Regions from separate parts of the Homo sapiens genome. Here region 2 is linked to region 1. The links come from fine-mapping of genetic effects on gene expression. Tissue or cell type: monocytes after LPS. Region 1 holds a variant in brackets; the other region holds the start of a gene. All regions are shown on one strand. Distances are between the middles of the regions.

The links. PIP is the estimated chance that this variant, and not a neighbour inherited with it, causes the effect.
Region 2: it holds the start of CD40, and the variant in region 1 is fine-mapped to the expression of CD40 in monocytes after LPS (Fairfax 2014, PIP 0.95).

Annotation. Positions count from the first base shown.
Region 1 is chr20:46,034,910-46,043,012 of GRCh38, forward strand. SLC12A5 (solute carrier family 12 member 5) reads left to right here. Exons shown (of 26, transcript NM_020708.5): 2 at 39-133; 3 at 495-626; 4 at 868-1,014; 5 at 1,832-1,886; 6 at 2,346-2,476; 7 at 5,464-5,705; 8 at 6,420-6,631. Among named protein-coding and RNA genes, the nearest start is that of SLC12A5, 9.7 kb to the left of the region's middle. RefSeq lists silencers at 6,001-6,295, 6,078-6,278. The variant C/T (reference allele first, on the strand shown) is at 4,663.
Region 2 is chr20:46,113,972-46,122,074 of GRCh38, forward strand. CD40 (CD40 molecule) reads left to right here and starts at 4,343. Exons shown (of 9, transcript NM_001250.6): 1 at 4,343-4,423; 2 at 7,849-7,927. The coding sequence starts at 4,373. RefSeq lists a cis regulatory region at 3,525-5,622, enhancers at 3,564-4,380, 4,146-4,205, 5,216-5,565, 6,610-6,699 and a silencer at 4,122-4,341.

The DNA of each region.
Region 1 (8,103 bases):
TGATTGGTTCCAGATCCCTGACCCCTCTCCCTTCTCAGGTGATGGCAACCCCAAGGAAAGCAGTCCCTTCATCAACAGCACCGACACAGAGAAGGGAAAGGAGTATGATGGCAAGAACATGGCCTTGTTTGAGGTGGGCTGCTAGGGCTGTTGGGCCCCCACCTACAATTCATTATCCTGATTCATCAGCTGCTCTCTCCCTCCCTCCCTAGGGAGCAATACCCTCGTCTCCACCCCTCCCTTGAGTCTACCTTCTTCCTTGAGCCTCCCCATCCCTCCTTCTCCCTCCTGGGATTTACTCCCTCTGCTCCCTGCCCTCTCCTCATCCTACCATTCTTACCCCTGTTCTCCTCACCTGTTCCTCCTCCTTTCCCATCTCATCCCAACCTGAATAGTTTCGTGCTCCTTGTCCCCATCTCTTCCTCTGCCCTTCGCCACCCAGCTCACTCCACTTGCTCCCCCAGCCTCCTAGCACTGACACCCTCCCTCCATAGGAGGAGATGGACACCAGCCCTATGGTGTCCTCCTTGCTCAGTGGCCTGGCCAACTACACCAACCTGCCCCAGGGAAGTAGGGAGCATGAAGAGGCAGAAAACAATGAGGGTGGAAAAAAGAAGCCGGTGCAGGTGAGGACCTCGGGGGATGAGAAATGGAAGAAAAGGGACGGATGGGGGGTGGGGGAGGATGGGGGAGGAAAATGGATTTGAATGGAGGGAGGGAAAGGGGATACAAATCAGAAAGAAGAGGGATGAAGGGTTGAGAATAGAGAGAAGAGGAAGGTGGGGGCAGAGAAACATGGAGGAGGAGCACACCTGGGGTGTTCGTAATGATGAGGACTGCAGAGACTGATGCTGGCCTCCCTGGCAGGCCCCACGCATGGGCACCTTCATGGGCGTGTACCTGCCGTGCCTGCAGAACATCTTTGGCGTCATCCTCTTCCTGCGGCTCACCTGGGTGGTGGGCATTGCAGGCATCATGGAGTCCTTCTGCATGGTGTTCATCTGCTGCTCCTGTGTGAGTGACACCCCTCCCCTCACCACCCCCTGACAGCTGGGGCTTGGCAGAGGCCTGGGGGTGGGAGGTGGGAGGATGGAAGCATGAGACCTGAGCTTTTTATAGGAACCACTGCTTATGATCTTTGAGAGTAAATTAGGCCTGACTGGTCCTTCCTGCATCTCACAGGCTTGTCCTTGATGGCTGTTAACCAGGTTTCACCTGGATCTCTCTGTGTGTAATTACACAAGTGATGCAGCTCATTGATGGAAATGATAAGGGTAGGGAAGAAAATAAAATTCACCTATAATCTTACAATAGTTAACATTTTGGCAGGTCCAGACTCACAAAAATGAGATTACATGTCACAAACAGCATTGTAACCAAATTCTTCCCATTCTCTCTAAAAAAATCAAATATTCGCCAAACACCTACTTCTTGATATATTTACATGTCCTCGTACATAACCTTGAGACAGCTCTGCATGTGAGGTACGCAGTGTCGGAGCTGTTACTCCTATTCTATAGATGGAGAAACTGAGGCTTGGAGAAGTGAAGTGAGTTGTCTCAGGTCAGGCAGCTGGTCTGAGACCAGGCTGGGATTTCCAGAGCTCTCTGATGCTGTGGCTTGCTTGGGCTCCTTCCGTTCGCATGGTGAATAAGGTTTTCTTGAGAAGAAGGACTTGGCAGGAGTAGAAGTTGGAACAGGTCCAGGGAGCAGCTCAGCAGAAGAGAACCTGTGGGTTTGGCTGGTGTTTATGGGGTATAAGGCTTGGCCCCCACCCAGGCCACTGCGGCCCCTACCCCAGCCACCGCTCTGATGATCTCTTTCCTCACAGACGATGCTCACGGCCATCTCCATGAGTGCAATTGCAACGAATGGTGTTGTGCCTGGTAGGTGACTGGGGCTTTGTGGGGAGGGAGGATGGCTGGGTGGAAGGAGGGATAGTGCCCTGGGCTTTGGGGGACATCAAGGCCCAAGAGAGATAATATTCTAGACTAGGGGGCTGGGCTGTATCTGTTTTCAGCCCTATTGGGGGCAGAGGAGGAGGCAGCTCTCGGTGTTGAATAGGGCAGCCCTCCCCCAACTCATCCTGAGACCCTCCTCTCCACCATCCAATTTTCTGAGCCATGACCTCCTTAAAGGGGTAATTAGCAACATGGTAATTAGTGCTGCAAAATCCATGCAGAGTGGTTGCTTGGGTCTCTCACCAGTCCCCTTTCTAGGGCTGCAGCCCATAAGCCTGTGAGGCCTGGAGCAACCCCCTTCTGCCTCTGTCACTGAACACCCCTCACCCCTTACGGCAGCCCAGTGCCCCCGACCCTCTCGCTGATACCAGATTCTCCCTGCAGCTGGTGGCTCCTACTACATGATTTCCAGGTCTCTGGGCCCAGAGTTTGGGGGTGCCGTGGGCCTCTGCTTCTACCTGGGCACTACCTTTGCAGGAGCCATGTACATCCTGGGCACCATCGAAATCCTGCTGGTAAGAGAGGCTGAGGAGGAGGTGTGGAACCCCAGGTTGTCAGTCAGTTAATCAGTGCTCCCTGGACACCTCCTATAGGCCAGGCCATTCAGTGAGGCCAAAAATGTGGTTCAGTAAGGCCAAAGTCAGATGTGGTTCTGTTTCTAAAGAGTTCACAGTCTAGTTGGGGAGACAAGATACAATAATTATGTAACATACACAGCTGTCGTTTATCAGGCCCCCACTGAGCTCTCAGCATCCTTCCAAGTGCTTTCCAGCCATTCTCTTGTATCCTTACGAGGTTTAAGTATTATGATGCCCATTTTACAAATGAGAAGCTCAGAGAGGTGAGATAACTTCCTCAAGGTCACTCAGCTCTCAGATAGGCGGCAGAGGTGGGTTGATGAGTTAAAATATGGTAGAAATAAAAACAGTAATGTTATGCAGCAGCTACCATTGTGTGATTGCCTCCCAAGGGGCATGGACTGTGCTAGGTACTCTATGATGTTAATGGTAGATGGCTGGTGGCTATTGGATTGCAAAAGAGAAGAACCAGGGGAGGGATCCGTATAAAGACATCTGTTGGGAATAGTGACTGATGGAGAGAAACCAGGTTGCTGGGCAGTGCTTGAAGTCAGGACTGGTGACTTAGGTCTCCATCCTTCATCCCCTTCCTGTAGGGCATGGGTGCTGAAGAGGTGTCCCTGGTGGATAGGAAGTAGAGCTGACATGTCCCAAGCCCCTACTCTGTGCAGGCCCCAAGGCTTGAAGTATATCATTTTATTTTATCGTCATGACTCTCTCATGAGTTAAAGGTGGCCATTTTATTTTATTTTATTTTTTATTTCTTTTGAGACAGAGTCTCACTCTGTTGCCCAGGCTGGAGGGCAGTGGTGCAGTCACTGACAGCCTCGACTTCCCAGGTTCAAATGATCCCCCCCACCAGTTCAGCCTCCCAAGTAGCTGGTAAGCACCACCATGCCCAGCTAATTTTTGTATTTTTTTGTAGATAGGGGTCTCACTATGTTGCTCAGGCTGGTCTCAAACTCCTGAGTTTAAAATGATCCTCCCACCTCAGCCTCCCAAAGTGTTGGGATGACAGGCGTGAGCCACTGCACCTGGCTAAAAGGTGGCCATTTTACAGATGAGGAAAGCAAGGCTCAGAGTTTAAGGAACGAATGGAAGGAATATGAACCTTGGTCTTTCTGACTTCCAGAGCCTTACACAAGTGATGCAGCTTCATTGATGAAAATGATAAGGGTAGAGAAGAAAATAAAATTCACCTATAATCTTACAATAGTTAACATATGGTAGGTCCAGACTCACAAAAAATGAGATTACATGTCACAAACAGCATTGTAACTGAATTCTTCCCATTCTCTCTAAAAAATCAAATATTCACCAAACGCCTACTTCTTGATACATTTACGTGTCCTCTATACCACACTGCCTTGGAAACCTAGAACTAGAAGGTGTCACAGCAATTAGTGTCACGGCAGGATGGAAGAGGGTAGGACAGGGAGGATGGATGGGGCATGAAAGGCCTGAGGAGGCAAATGATGAGGGAGAATAGACCTCCATGACTTCTAAAAATTAAAATATTTGAAAATTGTTGTAAATGCAATTCTGCCCATTGCAGAAAATTGGGGGAATATCCAAGTCATGAAAAAATGTAAAGAAGGAAATAAGTCACCCAAAGAAAATAACCATTAACATTTTGGTGTATTGCCTTCTAGTTTTTGTTTTTCTATGTGGTATTGTATTCTGTCTATGTAAAATATAACCCTATACCTAAGCAACTCATATTCTCTTTGTATATATTATTTGCAGTGAAAATAACTCTTGGAAGAATGTAAACGTTAATATTTAGCATGGGAATTTTAGAAAATACAGATGTGCATAAAGAATAGATTATCCACATTTTTTACGATTCAGGGAAAACTACTGACAACATTTTGATGTACTTATGAAAACACATACAGACGTATACTAATATACGTATATATCTTCACATACACATTTATAAAAATGAGATAATGAGACATATTCTTTTTCAAAAACCTGATTGTGTTCACCTAATGTACCATGGATAGCTTTTAAAGTCAGTCCATATAAATCTATGTCATCTGGCCGGGCACAGTGGCTCATGCCTGTAATCCCAGAACTTTGGGAGGCCGAGGCAGTTGGATCACCTGAGGTCAGGAGTT[C/T]GAGACCAGCCTGACTGATACGGTGAAACCCCGTCTCTACTAAAAATACAAAAATTAGCCAGGGGTGGTGGTGGGCACCTCTAATCCCAGCTACTCGGGAGGCTGAGGCAGGAGAATCACTTGAACCCAGGAGGTGGAGGTTGCAGTGAGCCAAGATCGTGCCACTGCACTCCAGCCTGGGCAACAAGAACAAAACTTTATTTCAAAAAAAAAACAAAAAAACCACCACCACAATAAAAAACCAACAACAACAATAAAAAACCAACTACATCATCTTTTTTAATAGCTCCATAGTCTGTGGGGATATCATGATTTATTCACCCAACCTCGAGTGATGAACATTTATTTCCACCTTTCTATTAGAAATTATTAAAATGATAAATAATTATTAAGAATTATAATTAACAAAAATAACAGAAGTAATTGCTTCCAGCATCCTTGCAATGTCATTTTTTAAAAAATGTATTTTTATTTGTTTTTGAGATGGGGTCACATTATGTTGCCTAGGCTGGTATTGAAATCCTGGCTTCAAGTGATCCTCCCACCTTGGCCTCTCAAAACACTGGGATCACAGGTGTGAGCCACCATGCCTGGCCTTATAATGTCATTTTTAAATGGCTGCATCATAGTCCTTGCAGGACAGGCCATGCCTTCTTTAGCGATTCTCCTATTACTGGATGTCTTTTCCAGTCTGGTACCACTGTGACTGTGCTGTGATGAGCATCTTTTTTCCTAAAGCGCTGCATGTAGTGCAAAGGGCTGCTGACTTAGGTATCTGTTCTTCCTGCCCCTTTCCCACAGGCTTACCTCTTCCCAGCCATGGCCATCTTCAAGGCAGAAGATGCCAGTGGGGAGGCAGCAGCCATGCTGAACAACATGCGTGTTTACGGCACCTGTGTGCTCACCTGCATGGCCACTGTGGTGTTTGTGGGTGTCAAGTATGTCAACAAGTTTGCCCTTGTCTTCCTGGGTTGTGTCATCCTCTCCATCCTGGCCATCTATGCTGGGGTCATCAAGTCTGCCTTCGACCCACCCAACTTCCCGTGAGTGCTGCTGCTCTGAGCCCAAGGAATCGTCCTCCTACCTCCCTGGCCCTGTTTCAGAGTCTCTGCCAAACTCCCCCTCCCTGCCCCTCAGAATCTCAGAGTGGTGTGGGTTGGGAGTAGCTTCCCTTGGGAGGGAAAATCTCTCTTAGTTTGGGGGCAATCTCTTCAGAGTGAGGTAACTTTTCTGGAGGAGGGAACAATTTACCTTGTAAGAGTCAACTTCTTGCTGGTAGGGTGGACTTAGGAAGAATTAAGTGGGAATGAGTTCCAAAGCAATGAATGCTGTCTGTGGTAGGGAAACCTTTCCTGGGTGGGGACAACCTCCTGGAATGGGACAATCTCCTAGTGTTGGACAACTCCTCCAGGATGGGAAAAGACACAGAAGTCTACAGGGTCCAGGGACTCAGATCCAAGTCCACTCCATCCACTGCTCAGAGGTGGAGGGCGGCCCCCGAGACCGCTGTCCACGGTGCTGAAACACAGCATTGCACTAATGCGGTGCTTCTCCACCTTGGCTGCTTATTAGAATCACTTGGGGAGCTTAAGAAAAAAAAAAAAAAGCCAATGGCCAGGCTTCATTTAAATTAAACGAGGAACTCTGGATATGGGGACCTGGCGTCCGTGTGTTTAAAAGGTCTCCCGGTGGCTGTATTGTGCAGCGAGGGCAAGGTTATGTGGCTCCCCACCTTCCTCCCTTGTTTCTCTCCCTAGGATCTGCCTCCTGGGTAACCGCACGCTGTCTCGCCATGGCTTTGATGTCTGTGCCAAGCTGGCTTGGGAAGGAAATGAGACGGTGACCACACGGCTATGGGGCCTTTTCTGCTCCTCTCGCTTCCTCAACGCCACCTGTGATGAATACTTCACCCGAAACAATGTCACAGAGATCCAGGGCATCCCTGGTGCTGCCAGTGGCCTCATCAAAGGTCTGCGGAGGGACAAGGGCTGGCATCCAGGGAACGCTGCAGGGATTGTAGGTTAAGCGGTCAGGATTAAGGGGCCCTCCTTGGGATTCAGCTAAATTCAATCAGCTTTAATTGAGCACCTACTCTGAGTTACATTCTGTCCTTGGCATCAGGGAGGAGTAAGGTGAAAAGGAGACAAGTATCTCACCGCTAGTAGGAAAAGAAGTCATCAACGTAACAGGTGGTCACTGAGCACCTACAGAGTGCCCAGCATTGTGCTGAGTGCTAGGAACACAAAATAAATAAGCCACAGTTCCTGGCCTCAAGGAGACTAATGGCAGAAATAGATGTAATAGCAAATACATTATGCCATATGTAGATGTGCATTCAATGCACAGAGAATGCCCGGGGGGGGAGAGTTCATGTGTATAAGATGGCAATAGGCTTCCTGGACTCAACTGAGGAGGGTTTTGAAGGACAAATGAAAGATCTTCAATTCTATGAGAGGAGTAAGGAAATTGCAACCAGAAGAACAGCTTGCCTAAAAGCAGGCAGAGGCAGAAGAGTTTATTGTGTCTTTCCAATCACAAGTAATTTGGTATGACTGGGGCATAAAGAGCAAAATAAGGTGGAGAAAGAAGCGATGTAGGAGAGGCTGGCATGAGCCAGATCATGGCAGGCCTTGGAAGCCATTTTGGAGAGTTGGGACCACATTCTGAAGGCAATGAGGAGCCACCAAGGGGTTTTGGGAAAGGGAGGGACGTGGTCAGATCTCCATTTTTTGAAGGTTCATTCTGGCTGCTAATGTGGATGGGTTAAAGGGGTGAGAGGAGAGAGGCAGGGGGCCCAGGAAGGGGCTGAGGCTATGAGTCCAGGAGAGAGAGATGGTGGTTTTCTGAGTGAGAGTGATGGAATGATGTCTGTGGGAATTACTGCAGTGCTTCTCAACCAGGGCTGTTTTGCCACCCAGTAAACATTTGGCTGTGTCTGCAGACGTTTTTGGTTGTCAAAACTGGAGGGGTGTACCTGGCATCTAGTAGGTAGAGGCCACGATGCTGCTAAACATCCTACAATGCTATAGGACAGTCCTCCACAGCAAAGAATTATCTGGCCGGGAGTGTCACTAGTGCCACAGTGGAGAGACCTTGGAATGGAGAGAAGGGGCATATTTAAGAAATATTAAGGAGGGGTTAAAGGACAGAAGTTGGAGGTGGTATTGAAGTTGGGGAAGGGGAGAGGGAGCAGTGTAGGGCAGGGTGTCAGAATTGATGATGGTGCCATTTACTGAAATATGGGATGCAGGAAAGGAGCTGGTTTGGGGTGGGTGGAGGGTGAGATCAATTTGGGACACATCGACTCAATCTGAGATGGGTCTTTATTTGCTCATTTACTCCACTAGATTGGACTGTTTGATGGTAGTGACTGGGTCTGATTAGTCTGTGAAAGGTCTGTACATAGCCTGGCCCAAATCAGGAGCTTAGGAAATGTCAGTG
Region 2 (8,103 bases), 79 kb after region 1:
TGGGGGTGGTAGGGTATGTCTCCCAATCAGACCATCCGCCCCACCTCCACCAAGTCCTTTTCCTCCTAGCAGGCAGGGTCCTGGCTCAAGTTAACTCTTGAATGAGTAAGAGAGAAGATAAAATGAGATTTAAATTGAGTTTGAGAATAAAGGTCTAAAGGATGGAGGTTTAACAACAGAAAGTGATCCAAAAGTAATGCAATCTGCCCAAAATGTCATTAAGGGATGGAAAAGGGAGATTCAACACAGCATGGCTGAAGGCAGAGATTAGGGGAGAAAATCTTCATCATTATACCCCACAGAGTTGAATCGCCTCAATACACTGGCTCCACAAGTAAACAGAAAAATTGAAATACAGTGTGGTCGGGCTAGAGTCTTGCTTGGGTAAAGCTGCCCCAGGTTCTGAGAGAGCACAGGGGGATAGGTTGGTTGTTAGAGAGAGATTTCCAGAGGAGGGTTGCCTGAGATGGACCTTGAAGGGTGAGAAAGAGTTGGCCAGGTGAAAGGAGAGTGGCAGTGGGAAGGGAGCTCTCCAGGCAGAGGTGACAGCACGGGACATCTGGGGAGTGGGGCTGGAGCATGAAGGGGAAGGCAGGAAGGATGCTTAGAGATGTACACCAGGAGGCCCATGGCCTTGCAGCTCTGCAAGCTTAAGGGGTGAGGGCCCTGGAGAGCCACTTTAAACCTTGGAGCAACACAATTGGATTTGCATATTAGACAGAACACTCTGGATGCCAGATTCTGGCAGCGCTGTGGACACTGGACCTCTAGGCATGCTCCTCACCCATTCACCTGGCACTGTGAACCCACCTCCCTACAAAGGCCATTTCATCTCTGAGTTTCCAAAATCCTGGCTCCCTACTCTTTTGAATGTCCTTTGCCCCATTCCTATTGCAGAACCCTTCATTGTTCCCTTTTTGATTGGCCTCCGAATATTGCCACTTTCCCTTAAATCATCTTCTCGCTTTCCTCCTCCAGCACACTCTTCTCAGCTCAACAAGATTCTAGGCCTTCTCTGGGCCTGTGCCCACCAGCACATGCCTCCTCAGGATATGTATATACTAAAATATCTTCCCTTTATCTTATCTGGTCTTCGCCCCATGGGGCAACCCGAAGGCTAACATTTATTCCTTCACACATTAATTTAAGCTGCTTTAATTGCTGCTATGATATGTTTTATATAATATAATTAATGTTTTAATTCTGTGTACTTGCTTCCCCAGGCAGTTTTGTGAAAGGCCCAATTTTGGAATCAAGCAAATAAAGAATAAGTAATGGCTGAAATCATTATAGTAACACCCCTCTCTCAAAGGATTTAAAACCGTGCTTGTTTTTTTCAAAGTATGTTAAAAAGGGAAAAGATATTTTAATCTTCTCTCCATCCTGGGCATGTTTGGGTGGCTTTAATGAAGTTCCCTGGACCCTGATTTCAAGAGTTTCTGGCCTTTTGGTATCTGACCACCATTCTCAAGAGGCCACTGCAGCTTGAGGTCTGTGTTGAGATTACCAGCTTCGCACCCCCTGCCACCAACTCTTTGTCATGATTGGAGGCTGTACTTAGGATGAGAAGTTGCTGAACCCACTCATTCATTTATTCATTCATTCAGCACCCATATATTGGTGTCCTATTATGTACCTAGGACTGGGATAGATCCAGTCCTGCCCTCAGGGAGCTCACAGTCAAATGGGACCAGGCAGAAGGAGTTATGAGCTGGCATGCTAAATGCTGTGGCAACACAGGGGAGGAGGCAGGGTGGGATAGAGTACCTACCTCTGCCTCAGGGAGTTGGGGAAGGTGTAAGAGGAGGCAACATTTAAACTGTTTAAGAAAGGAGAAGGAAAGGAAGGAAACATCAAGAGCAATGAGATAAACCGTAAGGAAAAAAGATTGTGTGCCTGGGAAGTGGGGAGAGGCTGAAGCCAGTGTGCATGGGAGGACGTGGCAGGAAGTAAGCATAGAAAGAGAGGTTGGGGCTGAGTGAGGAAGGGTGTGCTTTGCCAGGATAAGAAATTTGGATCATCCTGAGGGTGCAGGGAAACCCAAAGAGGCTTTTATGCAGGAAAGTGTCCCAGTCGATCAGATCTGGAGTTTATCAAGAGAATCGCAGCAGTGTAAAGAGTTGCCTGGCACATAGTAGGTGCTCAATAAATCCTGTGGAATGAGAGAGGCTGTTGGGACAGTCCAGATGAAAGATGGCACCCTCTGAATTAGGGCAGTGGCAGAGGTGACAGAAAATAAGGGATGGATCCTAGAGGCAGAATCCACAAGACTTGCAAATGTGCCCTTAACAGCAGAAGCCATGAGAATGGGGTTAGAAGTGTCCTCCTCTTCCATCCTCCCTGATCTGTGAGGTCTGGCCTCTTGTCCTCTTCCAGAAATTGAGAGCTTGGAGGGTCATCACCTCAACCGTTGTCTAGTTCAAGCTCCTAAGTTTTCCTTGGAGAAAAATTTAGGCCTAAGGGAACACAGTCCTTCAGAGGCAGAGGCTGCACCAGAACCCAGGTGTTCCATGCTGCAAAGCAGAGTGTTAACACTGGTTCAAGAACATCTTGAGGGCCAGGTGCGGTGGCTCATGCCTGTAATCTCAGCACTTTGGGAGGCCAAGGCAGGCGGATCACCTGAGGTCAGGAGTTTGAGACCAGCCTGGCCAACGTGGAGAAACCCCGTCTCTACTAAAAATACAAAAATTAGCTGGGCGTGGTGGCGCCAGCCTGTAATCCCAGCTACTCGGGAGGCTGAGGCAGGAGAATTGCTTGAACCCAGGAGGCAGAGGTTGCAGTGAGCCGAGATCATGCCACTGCACTCCAGCCTGGGCAACAGAATGAGACTCTGTCAAAAAAAACCCAAAAACCAAAAACCAAACAAACACCCAAAAAACAAAACGAAACAAAAAACAAAAAAACAAAAGCACGTCTTCAGAGTTCATGAACCCAGGAAATGTAGGCACAAGTGTGTGTGTTTCTGCAAAATGAGAGGGTCCCGAGTTTCCTAACATACTTAAAGTGTTTTATGATGCCACAAAAGGCTGGCCCACTCTTTTTTTTTTTTTGAGATGGAGTTTTGCACTGTCGCCCAGGCTGAAGTGCAGTGATGTAATCATTGCAATCATGGCTCACTGCAACCTTGACTTCTTGAGCTCAAGCGATCCTCCTGCCTCAGCCTCCTGAGTAGCTGGGACTACAGGTGTTTGCCACCATGCCTGGCTAACTTAAAAATTTCTTTATTTTGTAGAGATGGGGGTCTTGCCATGTTGCCAGGCTGGTCTTGAACTCCTGGCCTCAAGCAATCTCCCTTTTTGGCCTTCCAAAGTGTTAGATTACAGGCGTAAGCCACCGCGCCTGGCCCCCACCTTTATTTTTATTTTTATTTATTATTTATTTTTTTTTTTTTTGAGACTGAGTCTTGCTCTGCCTTCGAGGCTGGAGTGCAGTGGCACGATCTCGGCTCATTGCAATCTCTGCCTCTGCGGTTCAAGCGATTCTCCTGCCTCAGCCTCCCGAGTAGCTGGGATTACAGGCGAACGCCACTACATCCGGTTAATTTTTGTATTTTTAGTAGAGACGGAGTTTCACTATGTTGGCCAGGTTGGTCTCGAACTCCTGACCTCAAGTGATCTGCCCGCCTCGGCCTCCTAAAGTGCTGGATTACAGGCGTGAGCCACCGCGCCCGGCCCCACTCTTAATAAATGCCTGTCTCCAGGTGCTGGGTGGGAGGTGGGATGGAATGGAATGAGGTGAGGACGCATGGATGCATGGATGAATGGATGGGAAGTTGAGACGACGCGCCCACACGAGGGAATTTCCTTTGAAAGAGAGCGAAATTCTGAGTTGGGAAACTCTTCCTTGAAACGCCTCCCCATACCCCAGCTGTGGCCTTCCCGTTTTCTGCGTGGTGGTGTGGGGGGAACTTCCTCAGGCCTCTCCGCAGTGGAGCCTCTTTCGGTTCTGCCAGGATACCTAGAGGCAGCGGAGAGCGGGGCAGGGAGGGGAAAACCGTGAGGGTCCCTGTGGCAGGCCCCAGCACCCATGGGATCTCTCTCCGGTCGCAGGAAGCAGGCTAGCTCCTAGCCCGCCTCGGCTTGGCCTTTGTGGGACCTGGGGGCAAAGAAGAAGAGCTGTCTCTGGGACCATGCCTCCTCCCGTACACAGCAAGATGCGTCCCTAAACTCCCGGGGGAATTAGACTTGTGGGAATGTTCTGGGGAAACTCCTGCGCGGTGAATTGCTGGGGGCTCCGCCCCCCCGATAGGTGGACCGCGATTGGTCTTTGAAGACCCCGCCCCTTTCCTGGGCGGGGCCAAGGCTGGGGCAGGGGAGTCAGCAGAGGCCTCGCTCGGGCGCCCAGTGGTCCTGCCGCCTGGTCTCACCTCGCTATGGTTCGTCTGCCTCTGCAGTGCGTCCTCTGGGGCTGCTTGCTGACCGCTGTGAGTTGTTTTTGCCCCGACCAGACGGGAGTTGGGAGTGGGGAATGAGAAGGAAAGGGAAGGAAGACTTCGGGGAAGAGGCCTTCCTGGCTGATTTTTGTGGGGGCAGGAGGGTGGGTGGGAGCTGGGCAAGGTGCCCCCGCTCCTGGCTGAATGGGGTGGGCTGCCTCTCTCTTCTCCCGGGCTGGGGTCCCGGGAGCGGCCTACAGGGGCCGCTCAGGGAAGGCACTGGCTGCCCAAGCGTGCCTAGACGGCCTGGACGGGTTTAGGGAGCCTCAGAGGCTGGCCACACAGAGACTGGTAGGGGGTTCAGAGGGCGGGAAGTGAGGCGGACCAAGGGAAGGGGCGGGTCTGGCCCGTTTCCTGTCCCCTTCTTATTGTGGACAGATGCCAGCCTCTGTAAGTAGTTATCATCTCCTTGCCAGCTGGGGCTGCCTTCTTCCAGGGCATCTTGTGGGAACAAGAGATGGGTGCAGAGGCCCAGGTACTTTTGTGAGAAGGCAAGGAGCTTTTAACATCGCCTTCCACCCCGAACCGTATCTTGGGTGTTCCAACCTAGGAGGAATCCCCAGGGCTTTGCCTTTTTCTCCTGAATTTAAGATGACATAGGAGACCCCTGGGGAGATGAACAGTTTATGGGACACAATAAAGGGTTAGGAGACCAGAGTTCTGGTTGGCTCTGACAGGGCTGGTGATCAGAGGGCTGGAGAAACCAGGGGTTTCTCCAGGCACCAGAGGGGCTCAGAGCCAACCAAGCATATCTCCGGGATTTTCAGAAGCCTACACTTGACTCACTTTTTGTTTAAATGTATTTTTGTAGTTCCTCATTCTGGAGGCTGGGAATCCCCCAAGTACCTGGCTCCTTCATCCCAGCCCCTCTGGCCTCCCCCTACTTTAGAGGGCTGTAGATTCCTGCCTGAAGCCTGGGCAGGAATGACCCATGGTATCAAGGAAAGCAAGGGAAGCAGCAAGGGAAGAGAGGGAGTGGGGAGGCTGCTTTGGTCCCACAGCTTTCACTTTCACCTGAAGCAATGGCTCTTAGGGAACAGGGAGGCAGGGGGAGGGCGGAGCTGGAAAGAGGTAAAGGGGGGCCCTTGTGGTAGGAGTGGAGAAAGAGCCAGAGGAGGTGGGGTGAAGGGTGTGATCCAGGCTTCTCAAGAGCAGAGTTTGCCCTCATAACTCCCAACTTTGGCTCCAGGTAGAGGCTGGGCTGTGACAACAATGTCAGAAGCTATCTATTGAGGGCTTCTTGTGTGTCAGGCTCTGAGCCAAACACTGCCTGTTTTCTTTGTCTGATTTCTCACAACTCCCCCATTATACAGATGGGCAAATTGAGGCTCAGAAAGGGGGATTGTCTTGCCAAAGGTCTCATAGCTAGCTAATGGAAGAACCTGGTTGTGAATCTACATCTGCATGATTCCCGAGCCTGCCTCTCAGATAGTGAGAGTCTCCAAGCTCTGGTCCTGAGCTGTTTTGTGGCAGAAGGACCAGAACTATGGGGAGTGAGAACTGGAGATTGACAGACTTTTAGGGGAGCGTTTTATTTCTCATGTGTTTGAAGATGGTATCAAGGACTTTCCTATCTTTGGGAGTGTGGGAGCTCCACGTTCACAGGATGGTGTCTTGCAATGAGCTGGTGGGGGGCAGTAGCCTTTTCTACTTCCTTTCCCATTTTGGGTAAGACACATTTCTGTAAGTAATTTGCTGAGATACCCAGGTTGAATGAGAGCCACCAGTTAGGTAGGATTCTGGACAGCCAGCCAGGTAGCCGGGCTGCTTGCCATATATCATGCAAGCAGAAACAAATGAATGATGATTAAAATTGCCATTTAATGAGCACCTACTATGTTCCTGACACTGTGCTAGGCCATATACATGTATTCTTTCTTATCTTCGTAATCCAACCTGCAGGGCAGGCATTATTACTCCCATTTTAGAGATAGAGAAACTGAGGCTAAGAGAAGCAAAATAACTAGTAAGTGTTACAAAGTCAGGACTGGAGTCTAAAGCTGTCTGACTCTCAAACTTGTGTTCTTTTCACTGGCTGTTCCCAAACTGTGGGACAGTTTTAAGGAGCACATGGACATAGAATTAAACATACACTTACTTTACAGTTCTTTTAAAAATCCTTCTCATTTTTTCAAAGAGGAAGTCTCTGGAGCTAGAATAGAGTTAATGCCTCTCAAAGGCTTGCTAATCCTTCTTTTAAAACAAAAATCAAGAGCAGGCCTGGGAGGGCCTTCAACAAGCAAACAACCAGCTGGGTTTTAATAACCTTGTTTTGTTTCCCCAGAATTTATTTTTAGGGTTACCTTTTATTTATGAGAAGTGATACTGGTTCTTGTCTCTTGGCAATGATGTGAGGTTTACATTTAAAGTAAATGTACCGGCCAGGCACGGTGGCTTGTGCCTGTAATCCCAGCACTTTGGGAGGCCAAGGCAGTCAGATCACTTGAGGTCAGGAGTTTTAGATCAGCCTGGCCAACATGGTGAAACCCTGTCTCTACTAAAAATACATAAATTAGCCGGGCATAGTGGTACACACCTGTAATCCCAGCTACTCAGGAGGCTGAGGCTGGAGAATTGCTTGAACCCAGGAGATAGAGGTTGCAGTGGGCTGAGATGATGCCACTGCACTCCAGCCTGGGCGATGGAGCGAGACTCTGTCTCAAAAAATAAAATAAAAGTATTGAAATTAACAATAAGTAATTAATAGCATGGGTGGTACCTGGATGTAGTAAAATGGTGAAGATGAAACACAAGTTGATGGAGAGAGGAGCATTGAGACCTGAGTTCTCATTTGGACTCTGTCACTGTGAGACTCTGGGCAAGTGACCCTCCTCTTTGGTGCTCAGTCTCAACTATCTGTAAAATGAAAGTGTGAGTTTACCCTTCCAGCTTTACATTCTAGCATTTTATGAGGGAAGGGCTGGATGAACAGATGATGAGGAGTTGGAGGAAGAAAACATGATGGGCTTTGGAAAGGAGCAGGAAGGGAAGCAGAAGAATAGGAGGAAGAGGCCAAGTGCTAAACATAGCCCCAAACAGCACTGGGACCAGCTGAAGTCAGCCAGCTTCAGGACTCCAGGGGAGCTGCTGGAGTCCCCATATCCTATGGGATCTTTGGGAAGAGGAATGACTCAGGCATCAAGCCCCAAGGAATTCTGTTCTGTTCAGAGAATATTGTGAGTTTACAGTACCATTGCTTTGTAAAAATACCAGAATGATTCTCTGGGTGCGATTATAATCAGCTCAGTTGACAATTTACTTGAAAACAAACATGCCAAATATCATGCAGGTTCCACTTTCTGTTTTGACTTGCACTTCAGTTTGCAGCCTCTGTCCTGGATGACTTTTACCTTTCTGCTGAAGAAGTTGCAACGGAGATTTCAAGATCCCTTCAAATTGCACAATTCTGTTTTTAGGTCCATCCAGAACCACCCACTGCATGCAGAGAAAAACAGTACCTAATAAACAGTCAGTGCTGTTCTTTGTGCCAGCCAGGTGAGATGCCAACCCTCTAGCCCCATCATGGAGTCCCCCTTTGCTTTGGTGGCAGACGCAGACCCCATATGTTAACTGTAAACTCAAATCTGAAACGACCCATTTCCCAGCCCTGCTTCACTGTCAGAATGTTCTGGTTCCCTCTCTACCAGGTAAAACTCTGTCTACCCTGAACT